Regions from separate parts of the Homo sapiens genome. Here all the other regions are linked to region 3. Evidence: fine-mapped expression QTL. A gene starts in region 3. Each other region holds a variant in brackets. All regions are shown on one strand. Distances are between the middles of the regions. Region 1 overlaps ZNF667-AS1 (ZNF667 antisense RNA 1). Region 2 overlaps ZNF470-DT (ZNF470 divergent transcript). Region 3 holds the start of ZFP28 (ZFP28 zinc finger protein).

Region 1 (8,183 bases), 42 kb before region 3:
TCGGCTCACTGCAACCTCTGCCTCCCAGGTTCAAGCGATTCTCCTGCCTCAACCTCCCGGGTAGCTGGGATTACAGGCATGTGCCACCATGCCCTGCTAATTTTTGTATTTTTCATAGAGATGGGGTTTCATCATGTTGGCCAGGCTGGTCTCAAACTCCTGACCTCAGGTGATCTGCCCACCTTGGCCTCCCAAAGTACTGGGATTACAGGTGTGAGCCATCACACCTGGCCTATAATATCTTGATAATACTGCTACTACCACATCACCTAAGATGCTTCAAGGGAGTTTCATACAGTTTTGATGGTTTTAATGCCATATGATTTAAACTATAATCTATGATGAGTACACATTCACATTTTATAGCACAGGGTCACTCAATGCTAGAGGTTTTATGTAGAGCTCCTGAAATGATGCATCTGAGTCCTTTCAGCTGGGAAAGACATGGTCTGAATAGGTAATATCATGGTTAGAAAAACCCAATTGGGTTTCACATGTGAGTACCAAACCTATATTTCCTCTCAAATAGAGGTACTGGCTTATAATTGAGGTGCTTCCCACATGGGCTTGTCAACATTGGGTGCCTCTGTGTTGAGGGTGCAGCCAGGATTTATAAAACTGAAGACTGAATATTCTCTGGGGCAATACCAGGCAGATTCTCTTGTATATGACATTGTAGCTTAGAACAAGATTTTCTAATCTGCTTACTTTACTGAATCACATTTTAAGTTTGTTTCTAAAACAAAGATATTGAGGGCAGTCAGAAAAGTAGTCCACATGGACATTCTTTTTTTTTTTTTTTTGAGACGGAGTCTCACTCTGTTATGCAGGCTGGAGTGCAGTGGCGCAATCTCGGCTCACTGCAACCTCCGCCTTCTGGGTTCAAGCGATTCTCCTGCCTCAGCCCACCAAGTAGCTGTGCCACCACACCCGGCTAATTTTTTTGTATTTTTAGTAGAAATGGGGTTTTACCATGCTAGCCAGGATGGTCTCGATCTCCTGACCTCGTGATCTGCACACCTCGGCCTCCCAAAGTGCTGGGATTACAGGCGTGAGCACCATGCCTGGTGGACATTCCATTATTAACTCACCTTGGCCTTGGAATTAATGACTTGGAGAAGACCTGAATGGGGAGGGGAGAGCAGTAGAAGCATGAGCCTTTCTGACTGTCTACATGTTCTTGCCCAGTTTTAACTTCTAGTCATGGCGAATGATCGCAGGAGAGCACAGACTGGACCCTGCTACGATCTCTCTTGGAGTGGATCAGACTGATGATCACCAACAACCAACTCATTCCCGGATAAGGAAGAAGAGAGTGTCACCTACTTCAGTGTGGTTTCAACCCTACTTCTGCATCTTAAAGACACTGTATGGTTTCAGCAGTAGTGCCCCTGTTCATTAGTCCCCCTGATGTTTTCATTCCTCATCTCATCTTTTTCTTAGCAGCATTCAATGAATCCTTCATTCTAGAAACACTCTATATCTTTGGTTTTCATGAGACCATTCTCACCTTGTTTTGTCCTGTGACTTTTTTGAAAAAAACAAAAACAAAAAACCCTTTTTTTCTTTTTAAATTCTGGTAAAAAACACAATGAAAATTTGCTATCTTAACCATGTTGAAATGTGCAGTTAGTAAAGTACATTCACATTGTGGTGCAAGCCATCACTACCATCCATCACTAGAACCCTTTTCATCTTGCAGATCTGAAACTCTACCCATTAAACGACTTCCCATCTTCCCATCCCCACAGCTCCTAGCAACCAACATTCTACTTTCTCTATCAGTTTGACTACTCTAGGTACCTCATATGAGTAGAATCATACAGCATTTATCCTTCTCTGCCTGGCTTATTTCACTTGTATAATGTCCTCAAGGTTCATTCATGTTGTAGCATGCATCAGAACTTCCTCCCCTTTTAAAGGCTGGATAATATTTCATGGTATGTTTAGATCACATTCTGTTTATCCATTCATCCATCAGTGAACACTTGTGCTCCTTCCAACTTTGGGCTGTTGGGTGTCCTGCCACTGTTGCTCCTAGTGCTCAATCTCGTTTATTCCCTCCTAATCAAGTGTACAACGTTGGACACTGTGCAGGATGATGCCACTTCATCTTGGATGCTAATCTGCCATGTTGACTTCTGATTAACCCCAGGCCCAGGAATGCCTCAAGATTTCTACTTTACTTACTGTTGCTTGTGTAAGCCAAGACAACCTTGATGTTATCATAAACATGTACTTACCTAAGTCCTGTCCTTTGGCAAATTATGGGCTATGAGACACAGCATTCTTGCCTTTCCCTGAGGGGTCAATTTCAGCGATCCTACACATTCCTTCTGAAGCACTTATGCTCTTTCTATATGGTATGTAAGCTCTCGGTCTGGGGAGTAACAGTGCAGAGATCTACCTGTCTTGTTGCCACATGTTTCTAAACTTTCCAATAAATCACCTTCTACTGACAAACTGGATTTGTCTTCCTTATTCTTTGGTTTCTTGGTTCCTTTTTGGTATGGATTTGCTTTCCCTATGTGGTTCTTTCATGAAACTGTTGGTGAGCTAGCCAGGAGGAATTCAGGAGCCAAAGTATGGGCAAGGGAAGGAAGCCTCAGTTGGGGAAGTCTTGGGGCAGCCCTCTGTGTGTGTGGGGTGATATTGCCCGTTTGCTGGATGCCTGCAGACCACCGCCTGAGTACGGGGATGGCCCAGAACACTACAGGGTCTAGAGTGCTTGTGAGAAGAAAACCACACCATGCACTGAAGGTCCCTGAAGGTGGCAACAGAGGGGTGGCCGCTATTATGGGTTGCACATGTGACCCCAGAAGTACAGTTAGCAACCGAGACAAAGGTACAGAAGCTAGAGAAGTAATTACAGTTAGAGAAGGATATGAGGATCTCCACATCTGTGTTAGCATCTAATTTGGTGCATAAGCTTGAAACTCAGGAGGTGCAGGTGGAAACTGTTGTCTGCCGCTTTTATGCAGCTGCGAGGACAAAAACTGCACTGGTTGCAAGTGTGAGCTGTCCTTGCTAGACCAGACCAAGATGCTGAGACCTGGAATCCTTGGGAATCGACTTGTGAGTCAGATGAAGACAGAGGTTATCTCAGAGTAGGAGGATTGTCCTCCCCTTTTGAGGGCAGGAGGAAAACAAAACCCAACAGATACAGCTGTACAATAGCAAGCAGTCTTTTCACAGCAAAGCTTAACTCTGAGAGTACACCTCAGCAGAACTATTGGACACAGCAAGAACTCTTAAAGCAGCTGCCAAGAGACAGCATAGCCACATGGATGGTGGTGTGGCTATGCGAGAGGCCCAGTGAAGGGGACTTCCCAGGTCAGACACTGGCATGGTGGTCTCTGGAGGAGGCACAGAGCAATTCAGGGGAGCTGGGTATGCAGCAGGCCATCTATGACCAGCAGTTGCAGTTGTCCCCTTGTAGGACAAGATGTATATTATGTGCGGGATGCCGTAGCTGGTCTTGGAGAAACTGAAAGGGGAAGGGATAAGGTCCAACTGGTTACCAAGGGAAAAGAAAAGGAGATAGCAAGTCTGTTGGACTTGAAAAAGGAGGTCTAAAAGACCCAGTTAGGATTACCAGAAAACAAATGTGGTACAATCTGATCTCAGCTGGGATAAACCAAGAAACGGAATCAGCAACCTCATGCCATGTTGGTGGGCATTTGAAAGGACTTAACTCCCGCCCAACTGTTTAGACCTTTTCCCAGCATCCGGCCAGAAAAGGAGGATGGAGGAGATGAAACTATGTATTAAAAAAGAACTCCGGTCTCTG[C/T]TCCAGCCTTGGACTCCTATCCAGCCTACAGACTGCGGGGCGGGGGGCGGGGGTGGGAGGGGGCGGAAGGGGGGCAAGGTTGCCTCTAGGGATGAGCAGTAGAGGGTGACTAGAGGCTCCATGTGGAGCTCACAATATCAGAGTTGAAAAACACATGCAGAGGACACTAGTTGTAGTGGACACAGGTGCAGAGTGCACCTTAGTTCTTGGAAGCCCAGAGAGACACGCTGGTAAGTGGACAGCTCTAGATGGTTACTGGGGACAAACAATCCAAGTGGAACAAACTCCTCCCCTTCTTGGTATTGGATGGTGGAGTTTCCCTGCTTACTATACTGTCTTTATCTCACCTATTCCAGAAAACATGTTGGATATGGACATCCTTTAAGGATGCACTTTGCAAACGTCCATGGGGGAATTCCACCAATGAGTTTGGGTGGTAAACACTATTTAAAGAGTGGCAGTGAAATAGGCACCTGTACTTTTTCCTCCCCCATGATGTATCATCAGTGTGAAGTAACAAATTATTTTCTTGGCAGAATAAAAGAAATGACAGCCACCATAGAGGAACTAGCCAAAGTTAATATTAGTCGGCCAGCCCAGAGTCCCTTCAGGAGTTCTGTGTGACTGGGAAAGGAAATCTGACAGCACCGGGCACGTGACAGTAGACTACAGGGAATTCAATAAGGTATTTGCTGACATATACCCTGTTGTGCCTAATATCATCTAAGTGATAGAACAACTATACAAACTATAGGTACTTATCATCTGTATTAGATTTAGCCAATGCCTTTTTTTTTTTTCTTGAGAAAAGGTCTTGCTCTGTCACTCAGGCTGGAGTGCAGTAGCACCATCATAGCTCACTGCAGCCTTGACCTCCTGGGCTCAAGCGATCCTTCAGCTGCAGCCTCCTGAGTAGCTGGGACTACTCAGGAGGTGTGCCATCAAGGTGCGCCACCAAGCCCAGCTAACTTTTCTTATTTTCTGCAGAGATGAGAAAATAAAGAGACCAGGCTGATCTTAAACTCTTGACCTCAAGTGATCCTCCCACCTCAGCCTCCTAAAGTGCTGAGATTACAGGCACATACTAGATTTGTCTACCTCATTCTTTGGTTTCTTGACTCCTGTGTTGGGGAATGCTTTGCATATACAGCCCTTTCACAAAAGAGACCCCACAAAACAATTGATCTCATTCTGTACATCCAGCTAAAATCACATGTGTACTAGCTGATAAGGCAGAACAAAAGTAATTAAGAGGTTTTATTTACTTAAATATATAGTGAGTCAAAGAAATGTGGATGAGCATTGATTTGAAGGCTATTTATAGATCATGAAGGTAAGCCTGGTGTTCACCCATGTTGAGGGTGTATCTTCCCCACTCAGTCCACTGATTTATAAGCCAATCTCCTCTGGTAATACCCTGAAGACACAGCCAGAAGTAATGTTTACCAGTTACATACATATTCCTTAATCCATTCAAGTTAATACCTGAAATTAACCATCACATCAACCCATGTTCTATGGTACAAAGCACTGTGGATGCATTATCTGTTTACACAAGGAAACTATAGGCTCAAACAGGCTTAATCAGTTTCTAAACTGACCCTTTAATTTAGTGGGATATGTTGAATCAAGGACATAGTGATGCATGCTACAATCTAGATGCGCCTTGAAGACATTATGCTAAGTAAAAAAAAAAAAAAATCAGACACAAAACACCACATATTGTGATCTCATTTGTATGAAATGTCCCGAGTAGGCAAATAGATAAACAGAGGAATTAGATTGGTGGTTGCCAAGGACTGGCGAGAGAAGAGAATAAAAAGTAATGGCTAGTGGGTAGGATTTCTTTAGTCGTTAAAGTATTCTCAACTATTGTGGTGGCTGTTGCATAACTCTGATTATAACAAGGCCACTGAATTTTATACTGTGAAAAATAGGCTAGGCGCGGTGGCTCACGCCTGTAATCCCAGCACTTTGCGAGGCCGAGATGAGCAGACCACGAAGTCAGGAGATTGAGGCCACCATGGCTAACACAGTGAAACTCTGTCTCTACTAAAAATACAAAAAAATTAGCTGGGCGTGGTGGCACACTCCTGTAGTCCCAGCTACTTAGGAGGCTGAGGCAGGAGAATGGCTTGAACCCGGGAGGCAGAGGTTGCAGTGAGCCAAGATCGTGCCACTGCACTCCAGCCTGGGCGACAGAGCGCGACTACATCTCAAAAAATAATAATAATAATAAAGTAAAATAAAATAAATAAAAAATAGCCGGGCACAGTGGCTCACACCTGTAATCCCAGCACTTTGGGAGGCCGAGGCAGGTGGATCACGAGATCAAGAGATAGACCGTCCTGGCCAACATGGTGAAACCCCATCTCTACTAAAAATACAAAAATTAGCCAGGTGTGGTGGCAGGTGCCTGTAGTCCCAGCTACTAGGGAGGCTGAGGCAGGAGAATTGCTTAAACTGGGGAGGCGGAGGTTTCAGGGAGCTGAGATTGTGCCACTGCACTCCAGCCTGGGCGACAGAGGGAGACTCTGTCTCAAAAAAAAAAAAAAAAAAAAAAAAAAAAGAACTAGACTTTTATGCTATGCTATGAGGACTAAGCTCTGATATTTTTATGTTGCCCAAATTCCTACCTAAGGGGTCTAAGGAGTCATGCCCTACAAACTATAAATTCTCATCAGATGGGTTTTGTCTGGCCCTACGCATCACGAGTTACTTTTCAGTATAACTCTGGCATAACATTATGAGACCAGGAAAAAAATATTTAACCCCAAAATATATTTCCTTGCCATACCTTGAAACTGCCCTGCTAAGTCTCTTTTGGGAAAAATCCACATCCTATAGAGAATCTCCTTTCCCCCTTGTTTTCCTTCATTTCTTTCCAGATCCAGGAGATAATCAACTAAGAGCCAGGTACCCTTTTGGGCTTGATAAGAAACATTTTACAACCTGCTCTCTCTCTCAAGTCTGCTGAGAACTTCCTCTGCACAATAAAATTTGGCCTCCACAATCCTTTATGTTATCCTGAACATTCCTTTCTATTGATCCCAGGTGTTCAGATAAACTCAACCAATTGTCAACCAGAAAATGTTTAAATTTACCTATAGCCTGGAAGCCACCACTCTGAATTGTCCTGCCTTTCTGAACCTAAACAATGTATTTCCTAAATGTATTTGATTGATGTCTCATGCATCCCTAAAAATCTATGAAACCAAGCTGTACCTCAACCACCTTGGGCACATGTTCTCAAGACTTCCTGAGGGCGGTGTCACGGGCCATGGTCACTCATATTTGGCTCAGAATAAATCTCTTAAAATATTTTACAGAGTTTGACTCTTCGTCAACAATAATCTGGCGCCCAAACGTGGGGCCTCAGAGAAGACTCAGGACCCCTAAGGAGTTGCCTGAAACCGGAGCTAAGGTACCAGCAGGGGCCCATTGAAGTCCCACTGAGTTCAAGCTTCTCCTCCGGTGGAACTGGTAAGTCCTCCTGAGCCCCAGACCTCTCCTTGACCAGACTTTTCTTAGGCTTCCCTGAGCCCTCTTCTTGAGTAGGCCTGGACCTTGGATTTCTGTGTCCATCCTTGCTGCACCCAGTTTTAGCAAGAATCCTGTTAAGTAGGTTTAGTGAGAATTCCCTTATCCTTGATCAGGTTCCTCATCTTCCACCCTTAATGTCTAAGTCCTTGGCCTGCCTTTAGCAGGATTCTACCCTTAATACCTAATCAAGTTCCTGTTTGTGATTTCCCACCCATTGACCCCCTTACTCTTATAGTTGGCTACAAAACCAACTGTTGTTGCTATATTGGGGAGTTGAGTTCACTGTCTCTCCCCCATTGCAATTGTCTTGAACAGTATTACTTACCGTTTACACACGTGTATTCTTTTCCTGTTTCCCTCATTTGCATGAGAAATGGAATTCTGCCTTTACAGCCTTGATACAGAGCAGTGGGTGTTGTGTGAGATACAGTATTGAAGATGAGTCTCACCTCTGTCTGTGATGAAATAGATTGTGAATTGTGAAGAGAATGCAGGTAGCAATGTAGGAGCTAAACTTAAGTGTCCTCTAATTTAGAGTCAATGACTTTGTCGTTTCTGCTGTGAATCTGGCTACTCTCTGCTATGCCAGAAAATGATGTACTTAACTGCAGCAAACACGTATCTTTAGTTTATCCTCCACTCACACAAACCTTTGGGACAGCACATGTTATCAGGAGTTTTCCCCCTCACATCTGTACTCTCTTCAGATGAATGTGGCTGGAGGGTCATGTCCCGAGGAATCTTATTACTTAGATATTATTGATTTTTGCAGAGTGGGGCATCTGACGTATGCACACCAGTGCCTCTTCTCTTGACATTTTTGCTCTTTGTATCAACAGTGAACTTGTTT
Region 2 (8,183 bases), 22 kb after region 3:
TCTTGAACTCCTGACCTCGTGATCCACCCGCCTTGGCCTCCCAAAGTGCTGGGATTACAGGCATGAGCCACCACGCCCGGCCAAGAATTTTTTTTTTTTTAAGAGATGGAGGCCTCACTCTATCATCCAGGCTGGAGTGCAGTGCTAAGATCCTAGCTCACTGTAACCTTAAAATATTTTTTTTGTAGAGACTGTGTCTCGCTTTGTTGCCCAGGCTGGTCTTGGGCTCCTTGCCTCAAGTGATTCTCCTGCCTCACTCTTCCCCAAAATTTTTGAAATAGATTTCTTTGCATATGAGATTTTAGTATATAATGGCACTATTATTTCAATATCGGGAAAATTATGTTTTGACAATTGGTTATCCACCCTCTCCAAGAAAAAAGTTAGAAGCACATTTACACCTTACAGAGAAATATGACTATCATATTTGACATATCTAATCATAAAATAACATGTTAGAGGCAAATGTAGAAAAAAGGAACGTATTATCAAGTAGGACATGGAGTCCTAGAAGCCATAAAGAAATCGAGAACAAGTTGGGCTATGCAACGATCTAAAACTTCAGCATGGTGAAAGGCACCAAAAACTTGTAAAAGACAGTTGAAGGGAAATGTATACAACTTATAGAAAATAACAGAATGCTGTTACATATACAGAGCAGTGGGGAACAACTTGCCATGCACACTGATAGGCGAATCACCCTGAAGAATCCAAATGGATAAAGAAAATTCGTGAAATTCTTAACCTCATTAATCAGAAGAATATGAATGAAACCACATTTTCCTGGCTCTTGGTAGATTACAATATAAAATTTGGATAATATCCAGTAATGGTATTAGTGTGGGAAAACAGGTACTTGATCACTATTAGCAGTGTAACTTCGTCCCCTATCTCCTCGGATGGCATGACCTATCAACATTATAAACGTGAATTTTTTTCAAACAGTAATTCCAGATCTAGGAATTTTATCCCATTGGAATAAATAGGTAGATATAAATATTGTTTTCTTGTAGAATTGTTTCAATTATGACAAATAAGAATTCAGCGCCCTGCCAAGTGGATTGACTAAATTGTAGTTATTCAGTACTGTGTTGTGCGATTAGTAGAAAGCAGTTAAGCTCTACATACACTTCTATGGAGTGGCGTCTACAACATATTTAATGAAATATGTGGTTTACAGAACCTTACAGGTAAAATGACCTAGTCATAGAGTCAAAATTAATACTGAATATATATGTGTGTATGTACATACAAACACATGCACAGCCTCAGTATCTATGTTGAAATCTGGTTTTGTCTTTAACACACAGACTTTTCCTAGCATTTTGCGGGCACTTTCCCTTTCTTCATTCTGTATTGTTCTGATGAACTGTCAGTGACACATGCTCCAAGTAAGACAACCAGATTCATTCTCTGTATTTTGATTAGAGACACAGGGACAGGAACAGGGCCAATATTCAGCTTTATGAACCAGTATGGCCAGAATGGATGTTTTGTTTTAGTCAATATTCATTTTGATTGGTGGGACCTTTATTATACCTGCTGTGAAGTATGTGGGATATGACTCCTAGGCTGGAATTCGTTTGAATTAAGTCATCCTTTGGCAGCAACCTAAGGATTCCTCCACCTGTCACTGAGATCCATTGAGATGATTCCTGCTTTCTCACATCTTGGTTTTGAGTTAAATTCTTTGAGTCTGTGAACTACCTGGTATTCTAATATTTCTCATTTTAAGTCAGAGTCAAATACTTTGGTTCTCAAGCAAAGAGAGCTAGCCAATGCAGAAATTTATACTACAGAATGATTACTAGACTGTAGAGAAGCAGAGTATTCAAGATGGATGTCCAGTGAGACAGATCAAAGCACAGATGAATTCCTAATCCTATTTTGTGCTGTGAAAGGATATTCATGATATAGCAGGATCCTAAGCCCATTGTGCACTAGGGTCTGGATAGCTCCTACCAAAAACAAAGGTATTGAGGAATACTACTTCCAAAAGTATATATGATACCTGTTTATAATGAAATTGGGTAATTAAAATTTCAAGGCTACTTGAAATTCTGGCCTTAAGGAATTGAATCAGTACCTGTATGTCTGTGTTGGGAAGAATCTCATACTCCTTTTAAGCATGGGGCTGTATTTGCTAAAAAAGGCAGCAGTAGATGCAGTTATTTGCTCAACAATGATGCTTACTGAATGAAGGGGTGGCCTGCCCCTCCACACCTGTGGGCGTTTTTCCTTGGGTGGGACGAGAGACTGAGAAAAGAAAGAGACACAGAGACAAAGTATAGAGAAAGAAAAGTGGGCCCAGGGGACCAGCACTCAGCATACGGAGGACCCACGCCTGCACCGGTCTCTGAGTTCCCTCAGTATTTATTGATCATTATCTCTACCATCTCAGAGAGGGGGATGTGGCAGGACAATAGGGTAATAGTGGGGAGAGGGTCAGCAGGAAAACGTGAACAAATGTCTCTGTGTCATAAACAAGGTTAGAAAATGTGCTGTGCTTTGATATGCACATACACAAACATATCTGGTGCATTAAACAGCAGTATTGCCGCCAGCATGTCTCACCCCCAGCCTTAAGGCGGTTTTCTCCTATCTCAGTAGATGGAACACACAATCGGGTTTTACACCAAGACATTCCATTCCCCAGGGACGAGCAGGAGACAGATGCCTTCCTCTTAACTACAAAGAGGCCTTCCTCTTTTAATAATCCTCCTCAGCACAGACCCTTTACCGGTGTCGGGCTCAGGGACGGTCAGGTCTTTCCCTTCCCACAAGGCCATATTTCAGACTATCACATGGGGAGAAACCTTGGACAATATCTGGCTTTCCTAGGCAGAGGTCCCTGCAGCCTTCTGCAGTGTTTTGTGTCCCTGGGTACTTGAGATTAGGGAGTGGTGATGACTTTTAACAAGCATGCTGCCTTCAAGCACTTGTTTAACAAAGCACATCCTGCATAGCCCTAAATCCATTAAACCTTGAGTCGACACAGCACGTGTTTCTGCCAGCACAGGGTTGGGGGTAGGGTTACAGATTAACAGCATCTCAAGGCAGAATTTTTCTTAGTACAGAACAAAATGGAGTCTCTTATGTCTACTTCTTTCTACATAGACACAGTAACAGTCTGACCTCTCTTTTCCCCACACTGAATTCACAACCGTGTCACTTCTGTTAAGCAATTAGGGAAATACTGGAATTTGGATTATTGGAATGAGACTAACAAGAAGGATTCAAGGATCTTACAAAACTTTGACTCTCCCTTGACTCTCCCTCTCAACCCTTAAGCAACCTCCCCACTGATTCTCCTCTCCATGCTTCCCTTGTGACTGGAAACAAACCTTCCTTCCTTCCTTCTTCCTTTCCCTTTCCTTTCCCCTGCCTTTCTTCTTTTCTTTTCTTTCCTTTTCTTTCTCAGAGTCTTGCTATCCCCCAAGCTGGAGAGCAGTGATGTAATCATGGCTTGCTGCCGCCTTGATCTCCTGGCCTCCAGCGTTCCTCCCACCTCGGCCTCTTCGAGTAGCTGAGACTACAGGCGTGTGCCACCACACCCAGAATTTTTAAATTTTTTGTGGATAGTTGTGCCATGTTGCCCAGGCTGGTCTTGAACTCCTGGGCTCAAGTGATCTGCCTGCCTCGGCCTTCTGAAGTGCTGGGATTACAGGTGTGAGACACCATACCCAGCCTGTGACTGAAAACTTGATTGTCCCTTTTCTCACATGGTCACCATTATTGCTTGGCTGGTAACCAAAATCAGAGCTTAGTATGACCTGTAGTTTGAAATACAGAAAGTTAGGAAAGAGATTAATCTCACCCAGAAATATTTAATTTCCTTCATTAATTGTAACATCTAAAATCTAGGGAACATTGTTGCAAGTGTATTTTCAGGGTTAGAAATTACTTTGCGTAATATAGATGGACTGAAAGAATTCAGAAGTTTATAATGCTGGATTGGATCATTTATGTCCATGCCCTTCACTCATCTGCAAGTTCCCATCAGGGCCCAATAGCCTTTCCATATTCCTTTGACATGAAAG[A/C]AGCACTGAAAAATGTCCCTATATCTCCACCTTTAGGTGCAGAGACTTTTCATGAGTGATTACATTTGAAAAGGGTATCCGATTTGTGTAGAACTGTGGCATGTGTAGTGGCTGGATTATAGGGCAATCATTAACTATGAGAAGAAAGTAAAAAGGTTATAACAAACCTCAGAACTCTAGAGTGTTCTGATTTCTGATATTTCCACTGTAATTAATAATTGATCCCCAGCGTTGAAACTGCACTAAGGTTTTATTTTAATTAAAAACACTCCATGGCATGGCATCCAAATCTCACATTGACTTAAATCAGTGGCACAGGACTGGGTCATTCAGGAGTCTGAATGACTGTAATTAAAATTTCTATGAACAATTCCATGGGAATTCGAAAAAGACTTGCATTTATGCAGAGTGAGGGCTTATGGAAGAATTCTTATACAAGCGTAGCTTAGAACAAGGTCTATTGAGACCACAAATGCATACTGTGGCTATTTTTCCAGGTCCTGGGTGTGCATTTGTTAATGATATCTATGATATGAGATGTGACTAGATGACCACCAAAAGTTTGTGTTCTTTTCTATTGTCTGGAATTGATCCTGGGATGTGTCTGCCCAGGCACCTTTGCTTCCAGTTTTGTCTATCAGATGAATTTTCTTCAGTGTGGTGTGAATAGAAGCAATATGGCACTCAGGGCTTGGTTTTTAAGAAAAGGATGTTCTGTCCAGACGGAAGTAGAATCTTAATCATATGGAATGGCAAAGCTGAAAGATAGAACTCTGTGTCCCTAAACCACTATTTGGAGGAAAGCTCCCCAGTCATCAAGGAACACCAGCAATGGATTATTATATGAGTGAGAAATAAACTTATATTGTGTTAAGGTAATGATATTTGGATTTCAATTGTAATAGCAGCTACTATAATTCTAATCAATATAATACCTTTGACTAATGATAGAATTCCTATTTTCCCTGAGTTATAGAGTAGGAACTGTGATGGCGTGTTAGTTGCCTGTTGTTGTAACAAATTATCCCCAAACCTTAGTGGCTGAAAACAGATAGACGTTCATTACCTCAGTTTCTTTGGGGAAGGAATCTAGGCACAGCTTAGTTGGGTGCCTCTGGCTCAAGGTCTCTCAGATGGCTACAGTCTTAGCTGTGGGCCAGTGCTGCAGTCATCTGAAGATTTTGTTAGAGGATAATCAGCTTTCAAGCTCAAGTAAGTGGGCAGGACTCAGTTCCCTACAGGCTTTGGCTGGACATGTTGGTTCCTTTCCATGTGGGCCTCTCTGTAGGGCAGCTTACAATATGGCAAGTGGCTTCCTTGAAAAGTGAGTGAGCAGGAGAGGATGCCCAAGATAGAAGATGAAGTCCTTTTGTAACCTAATATTAGAAGTGATATCCCCTCATCTTTGTATTTGGTTAATTAGGAGTCACTAGGTTTAGCCTACCTTCAAGGGGAGGGGATTACAAAATAGTTTGAGTAAGAGGAGGTGGGGAACTTTGAGAGACATCGTAATGGCTGTCCACCACAGTCTTCCTCCGTCCCCACCTCCCAGTGATTCATTTCCCTTCCAGATGCAGAATACACTCACTCCTTCCAAGGCCCCTCTCAGAGTCTCACCTCATTACAGGATCACCTCAAAGTCAATAATCTTGTCATCTAACATAGGTACAGGTGCTAATGAAGCCCATAAGATATACTTTCTTAAGTATGGGTATTGATCTGCAGACCTTTAGACTTAAAGAAAATAAAGAACAAGTTATCTGTCTCCCCTCCTCCACCACCCCTAACCGATACAGTGGAATCACTGCTCCATAGCAATTCTGAAATCTAACCAGACAAATGTTTGGAAATTCCTTTATTAGGTCACATGGCCTGGGATAATTATCCACCATCTGAACTCTTGGTTCTGCCCTCTGAATCCTTTTTTCCTGCAACGCATTTGCAGTTCAATAGCTTTTTTTTTATTATTATACTTTAAGTTTTAGGGTATATGTGCACAACGTGCAGGTTAGTTACATATGTATACATGTGCCATATTGGTGTGCTGCACCCAGTAACTCGTCATTTAACATTAGGTATCTCTCCAAATGCTATCAATAGCTTTCTTAGCTTGCTTACTAGAGTTTTAGGAATCTAGTGGCGTCTCTTCATTTTGTGCTGTCTCTGTCCCTCTCACTCCAGTTGGCAGAGTTTCTACTGAGTCTTCTGAAAATGTTGTGGGCTTCATGAGAACCTCATTGGGGTTCACTGCACAAGACAAAAGCCACAGCCACAAATCTCTTTGAGATAAGCTTCTTAGAGGCCTAATTATTTGAATAAGAGTGTCTGTCAGGTCGCCTTAATCTCTTTACAGAGCTTTTGTGTGGTTAAATAGTACTGAGATACCAGCTTTGGTCTTTCTGAGGTTCTGGATTTTACAGCCATGCCCTTAGTTTTTATCTAGACCAGTTTTCCTAGCAGTAACTTGGATTTCATTTTTGCTTGGAAGCCCTTTCTTGTTTTTGGCATTGTTTGCCACCTACAGAGGCTAAGAATTTTCAAAATCCTAATGTCCTCTTTGTTAACAGTTATTCCCTCAATTTATATCTCTTCTTTTGCATGTTTCTGTAAGCAGCAAGAAAACAACAGCAACAGGACATTCAGCACATTCCTTGAAAATCTTAGCTACGTCACCCAGTTCTTCTTCCTGCATTAGCTGCAAATAACAGGCTGCTAAACTTTCTGCCATTACATAACAAGGACCCTCTTTCCTCCAGTTTTTAATGGAGTATTTCTCACTATCCTTTTAGCCTTCACCAGCACTTAAGACCCAAAATTTCTGGACAGTCCCTTTTCTATACAAGTATTGGACAAACTCCAAGCATCCCAACAAAGGCTTTAGCATTACCTGTCTCAGTGAGACAAGAGTTGGAGATTGAGTTCAACACAGTGAACTGCCTACTAAAAACAAAATTCAGACGGACTTTTTGTCTGTAGAGACAACAGAGTCTCTACAGTGTGTTACTCATAGAGTAAGAATTATTAGATATGTGAAAACATAAGCCACATTCAAGAGAAGAAAGCAATACAAATCCTTAAACACTGGTATTAGCAAACAAGAATGATAAAGCCCCTATTATAATTATTCTGAATGACATAAAGGAAAATGCTATTAATGGATGAGCAGATGGGAATTTCAGCAAATGAGTAAATCAGTTTGAAAATGGGAATTCTAAAACTAAGAAATACAATGTTTGAAAGTAAAAATCCACTGGATAGGTTTAACAGGAAATTTGAGGTGGCAGAATAGTTAATGAAGTTGAATATAGATAGAAATTATTTAATCTGAAACAAAAAGGATTGAAAGAAATTAAAAGGACTGAATAGTGCTGGTGATAATGTCAAAAGGTGACTTGTGATAATGCTTTGTGTTCTCTGATCTTCCTAGATCTGTGGTTTGGTGTTTGTTTTCTTGCTTTTAGAGACAAGGTCTTGCTTTGTTGCCCAGGAGGGAGTGCAGTGGCAGGATAATGGCTTGCTCAAGCAATCCTCCCACCTCAGCTTCTCGAGTAGTTGGGACTACAATTACACAGCACCACACCCGGCTAATTTTTGTATTTTTTTAAAGATGGGGTCTCACTATGTTGCCCAGGCTGGTCTCAATCTCCTGGGCTCAAGCAATCCTCCCACTTTGGCCCCCCAAAGTGCTGGTATGTATCACAGGCATGAGCCACCACACTGGCCTGGTGTCCTGTCATTAATTTTAGAAAATTCTCAGTCATTATTCAAATATTTTCTCTCCTTTCTCTCTTCCCCTCCTGGTATTCCAGTTACGCATATATTTCACCTTCTGTAATTGTCCCATGGTTCTTGGATATTCTGTTCTTTTTCTTTTTTCATTCTTTTTTTTTCCTCTTTGTATTTCAGTTTGGGAAATTTCTATTAACATATCTTCAAGCTCACCCATTCATTTCTCAGAGTGTCTTAGTCTGAGGGGCTCACTAAAGGTAATCTTCATGTCTGTTACAATGGTTTTCAATTGCTAGGATTTCCTTTTGATTCCTTCTTACAGTTTGCATCTCTCTGCTTACATTACCCATCTGTTCTTGCATGTTGTCTACTTTTTCCAAGATGCTTCTCCTTCTGTGGGCTTCCCTAAGAACT
Region 3 (8,183 bases):
TTTCACCTCTTGGTCTGAGGCTTTTTTTTTCCATTTTCCAATTAATAATAAGTTATGAGTAAATATTATTTATAATAAAAGACAAAGTCTATGCCACTGCTTTCCATTTTCAGGACTACCTATGGAAACCTTTGCTTTCCAGTCTGATGTTGACAGACCATTTTAACCAAAGCTGAATGAAAGTATTTGGGGTTTATAATAATTTTATTCCATCTTCTTATCCAAGTAAGGAAGCTCTCCACCATTCCTAGTTTGCTAAGGCTTTTTCTTTTTAAAATCACAGGTGTGAGCTGCATTTTATCTCAATCATCTATTGAGATGATTCCAGGAACTGTTTCATCCTTATTTATTAATAGTGGTGAATGATATTAACAGGCTCCCCACCGTGGCACTCCTGTGATAACTTCTTGGCAGTATGTACTGTTGGTTACCTGCTTGGCATCCAGTCTCCTTTTTGTCTTTTCTAACAAAACTCAACTTGTGCTCAGGTGTCTCTTCCACCCTCAGATGATTCATCGAAAGCTGACTGAATTCCCAGTGACAGGAGTAGACTGCCCTTCATCTTAGCCAGATATCACAAGGCTATTCCTGAGTGACTAAGGAAAGACTTATGTCCCATGATGTGGTAAGGCCCTATGGACATAAAACATAAAATACCTCTCCAGAGAAAAATATAGAATCAGAAATTATGATTTTATAGAAAATTCATATTTTTAATCAGTAGATTCCTTGGATAACTAAATTCATTGGACTAAGTATTATTTCCCAAATCAAATGTCATTATGTTGTACATTCTGTTTGTTAAACATCTGACACCTAAGCATATGACATCCTTTCTTTGTGCTATAAATTTTATTTTTGCCTATTGTGAGTATATATTACTCTTTATACTGAATTTTTAAAAAAATTAATAAAACAATTTATAAATATGGCAAATGTGAAGATTGGCAGTAGTTCATAAGTTGTATCAGCTTAATCTAAATGATTCAGCCGGGAGATTATTCATCTTTCTTGTTGGTTTCTGTTTTTCAAAAAGCTATAGTTTTGGGTTTATAAAAAAAGCACAGTGTAACTCCTGGTGGTTAAGATGAGATATTTTGTCAACTTCCTGCTGCAGGAGAACTTAATAATGAAATTATTCTTATAGCTCTCTAAAAATTTGGATATATTGAAATATTTTTCTTCATAATTCTTTAGTGTGCTTCTGTTGCTTCTCTGCTAAATATGAACAAGGACGCATATAGCCCCATATAATAGGAAAATAGGATATAGCAGTCATTTGAGGATAAGTGACTGCTACAATAAGATAAAAAAGGTATTGTCAACTCTGTCAATAAAGAAGATAGATTTTATTGCCTTCTCAAGTAACAGCTTCCCATGTAGGTAGGTAGCAGGTCAAGGCAAGAAGACAGCTTTGCTCCATGATGTCATCAAAGGACCTGGTTCCTTCTATGCCATTTCTCCATCAACTCAGGATGCTGTCTTTATCCACATAGGTGATGCCTCTACATTCCAGAACATGAAAGTATTCTGACATATCTTCCTTGGACATGACATATTTTTCTATGTATTGCTGGACTTTGTTTATTGTCACTTTAGGTAGGATTTTAATGTGTATGTTGTCCCTGAAGATTGGAATTCTTTCCCTACTTAAATTCTTTCCCTACTGTCCTTGTCCAGTTTTGGTATCAAGGGTGTCTAGTTTTAAATTCTCCAGTATAGTTTTATAGGATAAGGATTATTTATTGCTTTGGTATTCATGGAAAAGCCTGAGAACTTATTTAATGATTTTCCATTTCTTCTTGAGTCAGTTTTGGTACTTATAATTTTCTCTATGGTAAGCCCCTGCATATGTTTTAAATATATTGAGATAAGGTGATCACAGTATTTGCAAAATTCTAAAAATTTCTGTGATTATGTCCACTTTTTCATTTCTAATACCATTTCTTTGATTGTTTATTTCTCTTTTTTTCTGCTAAGCCATCTTTAGCATAACTTTCATCCTCATGATGCCAAGGTGGCTGTTTGCAGCGGACCCTATCCTTGTTGGACTGAACAAAGGATGACAAACATGGGAATAAAGACAAAGACAAAAGAGTATATTTGGAAGAAGAGGTCTGGGGGCTCCTTGCTTCCAGTGAACACAGGCCCTGAGCCTTTACAGCCCTTCGTATTTATTAGAGTGAATAGGGAGAAGGGGGGTGGTTGTCGGTCAGTAGCTTGATTTACAGCAGGCTTGCAAGACTGCATTCGTCAACCAATAGGCTCTAGATGTCCCATTAGATAACCTCAAGGAGCATGACACCAGGGAGTGATTGCCTTCAGCAAACCTTCTGGTGGCTGGAGCAGAAGCGACTTTGCCCACATTCTGCATTCATGATAAACAGTTTGCTGTTTGATCATATAGCCTCCAGTGGAATGTTGAGTTGGCCACGATCCCTTTGCCAGCTCTCTACAGCTGTTCTACCTGTTGACATCCTGTGTCATACCCAAGCAGGAAGAAGGTTGTGTGAGATGACAAAAGGCCAGAGTTACATGCCAGCTGTGTCTCTTTCCACACATCCACCAAACCCCCAGCAAATGTGTACTTAAAATTCATTGGTTACAGAGCCACTACTCCTTACAAGGAGACTGGGGAGGTGAGTATTATAAGCTGGGCAGATGGCCACTTGAAGAGCATCAATGTTCTGCTGTGGAAGGAGTGCAAAATAGACACCAGAGAGACCATTAGCAGTGTCTGCCACAGCTATTACATGGCTAGGTCCACCTGACTGAAACTAAGCCTTTTCTATGAGACTGAAGTGCTTTGAGAGAAATGCTGACCTTGTCCTTTCTGCAGCTTGCGGCTTTCAGTCACCCTTGGATTCAGAGATAGAAGTCATCTTAATTCCATCACTGAGGCCAGGAGACCTGAAAGAAATCAATTCAAGAGTAAGGAGACCAGGCGTGCAGTGTGACTGGGCGTGCAGAGGTCAGTGCATCTGTGATGACTGGTGTAACAGCATCACTGCCTGTGAGCCAGCAAGGCCCTTGGCTCCCAGGATGAAGCTCTCCAGTTCTGATAAGGCCCCTGGGGGAGAGACCGGTCCTAAACATGTTCAAGAATAAATCCATCAGCTAACTTCAGACCGTGATTCACACAGGAAGGGAACTTTAAGAGGTCGCCAGGGCTGGTATTTTTGAGACGTTAGGCAGCCCTCTCTGAGGCGATGACAAGTGAATGGCATAAAGGAGCCAGCCCAGACGAAAATTTGGGGTTAGACTATTTCGACCCAGGACGTGCAAATACATAGGTTACAAAATGGAAAATGGTATTTTGGAGGATGGGAGGCCCGTGTAGCCAGAGATAATGGGAGAAGGTGAGGGGGCACCCAAAACAATCCCACAAGCTCTCTACATCCCCCTTCCTAGCCCACACACATCACCCATCAGAGTGATCCTCCGGACTCCGGAGGCCCCCAAGATTGCCTTTCCCTTCCCGGTCGGCAGTGACGCTCCCGCAAGGAGCTGACGCCCAGGCCCTTAGCACCTGTCACAGCCAAGCACCCTTTTACTCCGGCCCTGCGGTCCCACCCCTCGCCGCAAGCCCCGCCTCACCCGGTCTGCCGCTGCGCCTGCGCGACTCCCAGAAGCCTTTGGGGGGTGGGTGTGTAGTCAGAGCGGCCTCTGCTTCCGGCCACACCCAGGCCCAGCGTTGGCCACCACTTATGCGGCGGCTGCGGTCCAGGGACAAGTGAGAGCGACCCGCAGAGGGCAGGACGGACGGGCGTTGCATAGGCCCGGGGCCAAACCGTATCTTGCAACCTGAGCTCCGAGGGCCGCCGCATCCGTCCCTGCTTGGGACTACGCTTCCCAGCGGGCATTGCGCCGAGGCCACGCCCGGTTCCGGCGGCGCTGCCTGCGCACTGGAAGTGGGAAGCGCCGGGCTTCTCTAGGCTGAGGGGCGGGGCGGGGCGGGGCGGGGCGGGGCGGGGCGGGGCGGGGCGGGGCGGGGCGGGGCGGGGCAGCGGGGAGGGGTGGGGAGGGGCGGGGCGCGGCCGGGGGCGGGGCGGCTCCGCGGCGCGGCCCAGTGGATGCCGGGCCATGGGGGAGCGCGCGCGGGGCTGTTCGCTGGGCGTGGCGGGCGGGTGTGGCCAGGGGTGTGGGTCTGTGAGGGACCGGTCGGAAGGGCGTCGCGCGGCCTCGGGTGACATGCGGGGGGCGGCGAGCGCGAGTGTCCGCGAGCCGACGCCGCTCCCGGGTAGAGGCGCCCCCCGCACAAAGCCCCGGGCGGGCCGAGGCCCGACTGTAGGGACTCCAGCCACCTTGGCCCTCCCTGCCCGGGGAAGGCCGCGCTCAAGGAATGGCCTCGCATCCAAAGGCCAGCGAGGAGCGGCCCCTACGGGGCCTGGGCACAGAGGTGAGAGTGACAGGTGTTTGGGGCCGAGCGGACAGGGACGAATTCATCTCGGGATGAGATCTGGGAGGGGGTTGGGCTCTCGGGGACCAGTTGCTGGAGAACTGTGCCCCTGGTCTTTGAAGCTGGTGGAGTGGGAGAATCTGAAGATTTGGAAGCTCAACTGATTCAGAGCAGCAAGCCGCGGTAAAAGGGTGTTGACTTTCCCAGGGTGACTCTAACTAGACGCTTTTCCTGTTTTCGTGCTCCCAGGGAGGAAAAAAACCTATCTCCACGTTGTGGCAGTCCCTAGGCAGGGTAATGATCTGATCCCACCTTTTCATGCAGGAAGGGACGTTTCTAGGCTGGTGATTTGGGACTGTGGTGTAGACCTGGTCTCTAGCTACTCCTTTCTCTTTCAGCTCTGCCTTCCAGGGACACTGCTCTTCCCCAGGAGAGAAACAAGAAGCTGGAGGCTGTGGGGACAGGAATTGAACCTAAAGCCATGTCCCAGGTGAGTTGGCATTTCATCTCTTGTCTCTGAAATGCAGTCTTGCTTTTCGGGACTTAATGTTGCTTATTTTCTTGAAAGTTTTCAGTTTAAGAGACCTGTTTGGGCGCGGGTTTCTATTTCTTCACGTTCTAGTGAAGTGATGGGCTACGGGGAAAAGTTTAAACTGCCCGGGGCCTCGATGCCTGCTTCTTCTTCATCCCAATCAGCCTTCATTCTTGATTGATGAAATGATTCAGCCTCTCCCTTGTACCGCTTTTCTCAGAGGGACTCTGATGGAGGAATTGTGCCCCTTGAGGAACACGGCAGACTCTTCTGCTATACATGGTTTGTTTGGTGACCACTTTGTGCCAGCCACTGAGCAAACCAATAGCTAAGCCCTAGTCCCTGCTCTGGAGCTCACAGCCTGTTGACCCAATGTCAAGGAAACAAGCAAGATTCTAGAATGTGATCATCCTTGGGCCAAGTATTATGAGCGAGGACTACAAGGCGCTCCTGGCTTCCAGCCTCCTGTAGCGGAAGGGTAGGCCTATTTACCAAGGAGGTGATTTTTGAGCCTTGCCTTGAAGGGAGAGAAGATGTTTGGGAGGCACAGTAAAGAAAGACAACATTTTAGGGAGAGGAGGCGCAATATGAAAGGCTTTTCCACTTGATTTTGTGGCTTTAAAACATGCCAGTAAATAGTTGTGTTTGTTTCGGTTGGCTTCTCCTATAAATATCATAGCTAGCTCATTAATAGATGAACCATTTCACTTCCACTGAGGCCTCAAAAAATATATGTACAGATGAACCAGCTTCCAGTTGTCCTACCCAAACTGCTCTTGAGTGGGTTACTGTGATCTTCACATTACCAGATGCAGTGCTCAATTCTTAGTCTTTTTTGACTATCATTGGTATTTGAAATAGCTCAGAGGCTGGCAAACTTGTGCTGGATGAGGCCACAGCAGAAAATATGTTAGGCTTTGAAAGTCCTGCTGCATCTACTCCTTTCTGCTCTTATAGAGCTAAAGTAGCCAAAGACAATATGTAAATGAATGGATGGGCTGTGTTCCAGTAAAACTTCAGTTACAAAACAGGTGGCTACCTATCCCTCAAATAGCTCATCCCTGTCCTTCAATAGGCCCCCTTTTTTCCCTTGGCTACTGGGATCTCACACTCATCTGACTTTCATCTTCCTGACTGCTCAGTTTTTGCCACAGTTCTTACCTCCGTGACTTGAACAGAGTGTGCCTCAGCACTCTGCTCATGGCCCTTTCTTTTTTTGTCTGCATGCTGTCTCCTGGGGATAGTAGCCTGTTCCTTGTCTGTACAACCTACCCACATGGTGGCTCCTCCCAGATTCACATTGTGAGCCCAAACCTCTCCTCTGAGCCGCCGGCCTGTGTATCCTGCTCCACTCCTCTGCCTGAGTGTCTGATGGGTAACTCAAGACAGCCTGTCCAGACCCGAAGTCCTGAGAGTCTCCCATAAACCAGCTCCTCCCACAGTTTGAGTCTTAGTCAGTGGCCGTTTCATCCTCTCAGTTACTCAGTCCGGAAGCCTTGTCATGATTGGCTCATTTCTTGCCTTTTCCTTCCATATTTGGTCCTGATGCAAATCCTGTCAGTTCTATTTGCAAATTATGTGCAGAATCTGGCAGTTTTCATCACATCTATCACCAGCAGCAGGTCCAAGTCCTCCTTTTACTGTGGGCTTCTTGACTGTGCTTCTGTGACCTCCTGCTTCTGCTCACGCTCCCCACAGCCCCTTCCCGATGAGCAGCCAGAGGGGTCTATTCAAACATGTCACCTTGTGTCACGCTGTGCTCAGGACCCTCCAGTGGTTTCTCTGAATAAAAGCCAAAACTCTTCCTGTTACTGACCAGGCCCTACATGACCTGGCTCCTTGTTACCCCTGACATCTACATCACTCTCTTCTTTCTGAAAAATCGCCTTCTCATTTTCCTGCTCACCCTGTCTAGAATTTCAGAGCCTCCTACCTGTTCTTCACATCCCTCTTCCCTGCTTTGCTTTTTTCTTTTAGTACTTTTCTTTTGAGACAGAGTTTTGCTCTGTCACTCAGGCTGGAGTACAGTGGCGTGATCTCGGCTCACTGCAACCTCCGCCTCCTGAGTTGAAATGATTCTCCTTCCTCAGCCTCCCGAGTAGCCACCACACCTGGCTAATTTTTTTTTTTTTTTTTTTTTTTTTTTTTTTTAGAGACAGGGTTTCACCATGTTGGCCAGGCTGGTCTCGATTTCCTGACCTCAAGTGATCCGCCCACCTCAGCCTCCCAAAGTGCTGGGATTACAGCCATGAGCCACTGTGCCTGGCCCTCGTAGTACTTTTCAACATACTATATACAGAAATCCCACGTATACCAAAATTTGCACTTATTCATCAGCCATGTGGAGCCTGCAGATATGAGAAGTCAGCCCTCAGTGGACACAGGTTTTCCATACCACAAATAATCTTTTTTGAGACAAGGTCTCACTCTGTCACCCAGGCTGGAGTGCAGTGGTGCCATCACGGCTCACTGCAGCCTTGACCTCCCCAGGCTCAAGCAGTGCTCCCATCTCAGCCTCCGAAGTAGCTGGAATTACAGGCATGTGCCACCATGCCCAGCTAATTTTTGTATTTTTTGTAGAGATGGGGTTTTGCCATGTTTCCCAGGCTGGTCTCGAACTCCTGGCCTCAGGCAACCGCCCGCCTTGGGCTACCAAATTGCTGCGATTAGAGGTGTGATTCCCCGCGCCCAGACAATAATTGTATTTTCAGTCTGCATTTGGTTGAAAAAATTTGCATATAGGTGGACCCTTGCAGCCCAGATCCATGTTGTTCGAAGGTCAAATGTATTTTACTTAATTTATCTCAGTTTCTCTTGTCTCATTTCCTTACTTCATAGGCAAGGATTTGGGGCAGTTTTGCCTAATGTCTGATACAGAAAATATTTGGTGGATGAATGTTTGAATATAGTCTTAAAGTTCTCTTGTGGCCAGTGTTTTGATATTTAGTATAGTGTTAGAATAGTCATTTTTATACCTGAAAATGTGCTTCGTCCCTGATTTTTTTATTTTGTTTTTTTGCTTTTAGAGACAGGGTCTCACTCTGTCACCTAGGCTGGAGTACAGTGGCACAGTCATAGATAATTGCAGCCTCAAACTCCGGGCCTCAAGCAATCCTCCCACCTTGGCTTCCAAAGGAGCTGGAATTGTAGGTGTGAGCCACCATGCCCAGCCCCTGATTATTTTGTATGAATACATTCCTAGAAGTTTTTCTTGCCTCATGGATTAAGGTTTCCTAAGCTTATGTGAAATCG

Evidence for each region. PIP is the estimated chance that this variant, and not a neighbour inherited with it, causes the effect.
Region 1: its variant is the best candidate, but not a certain one, in a credible set for the expression of ZFP28 in sun-exposed skin (GTEx, PIP 0.78).
Region 2: its variant is the best candidate, but not a certain one, in a credible set for the expression of ZFP28 in whole blood (TOPMed, PIP 0.85).

The regions. Positions count from the first base shown.
Region 1 is chr19:56,492,975-56,501,157 of GRCh38, forward strand. ZNF667-AS1 (ZNF667 antisense RNA 1) reads left to right here. Exons shown (of 2, transcript NR_036521.1): 2 at 1,189-2,463. The region is part of intron 2 of LOC124904776 (a long non-coding RNA gene); the gene reads right to left. Among named protein-coding and RNA genes, the nearest start is that of ZNF471, 11 kb to the right of the region's middle. The variant C/T (reference allele first, on the strand shown) is at 3,791.
Region 2 is chr19:56,557,135-56,565,317 of GRCh38, forward strand. All of the region lies in intron 1 of ZNF470-DT (ZNF470 divergent transcript), which reads right to left. Among named protein-coding and RNA genes, the nearest start is that of ZNF470, 6.2 kb to the right of the region's middle. The variant A/C (reference allele first, on the strand shown) is at 4,041.
Region 3 is chr19:56,534,828-56,543,010 of GRCh38, forward strand. ZFP28 (ZFP28 zinc finger protein) reads left to right here and starts at 4,121. Exons shown (of 8, transcript NM_020828.2): 1 at 4,121-4,399; 2 at 4,798-4,889. The coding sequence starts at 4,192. ZFP28-DT (ZFP28 divergent transcript) reads right to left here and starts at 3,907. Exons shown (of 3, transcript NR_183967.1): 1 at 3,598-3,907; 2 at 2,824-2,910; 3 at 1,329-1,505.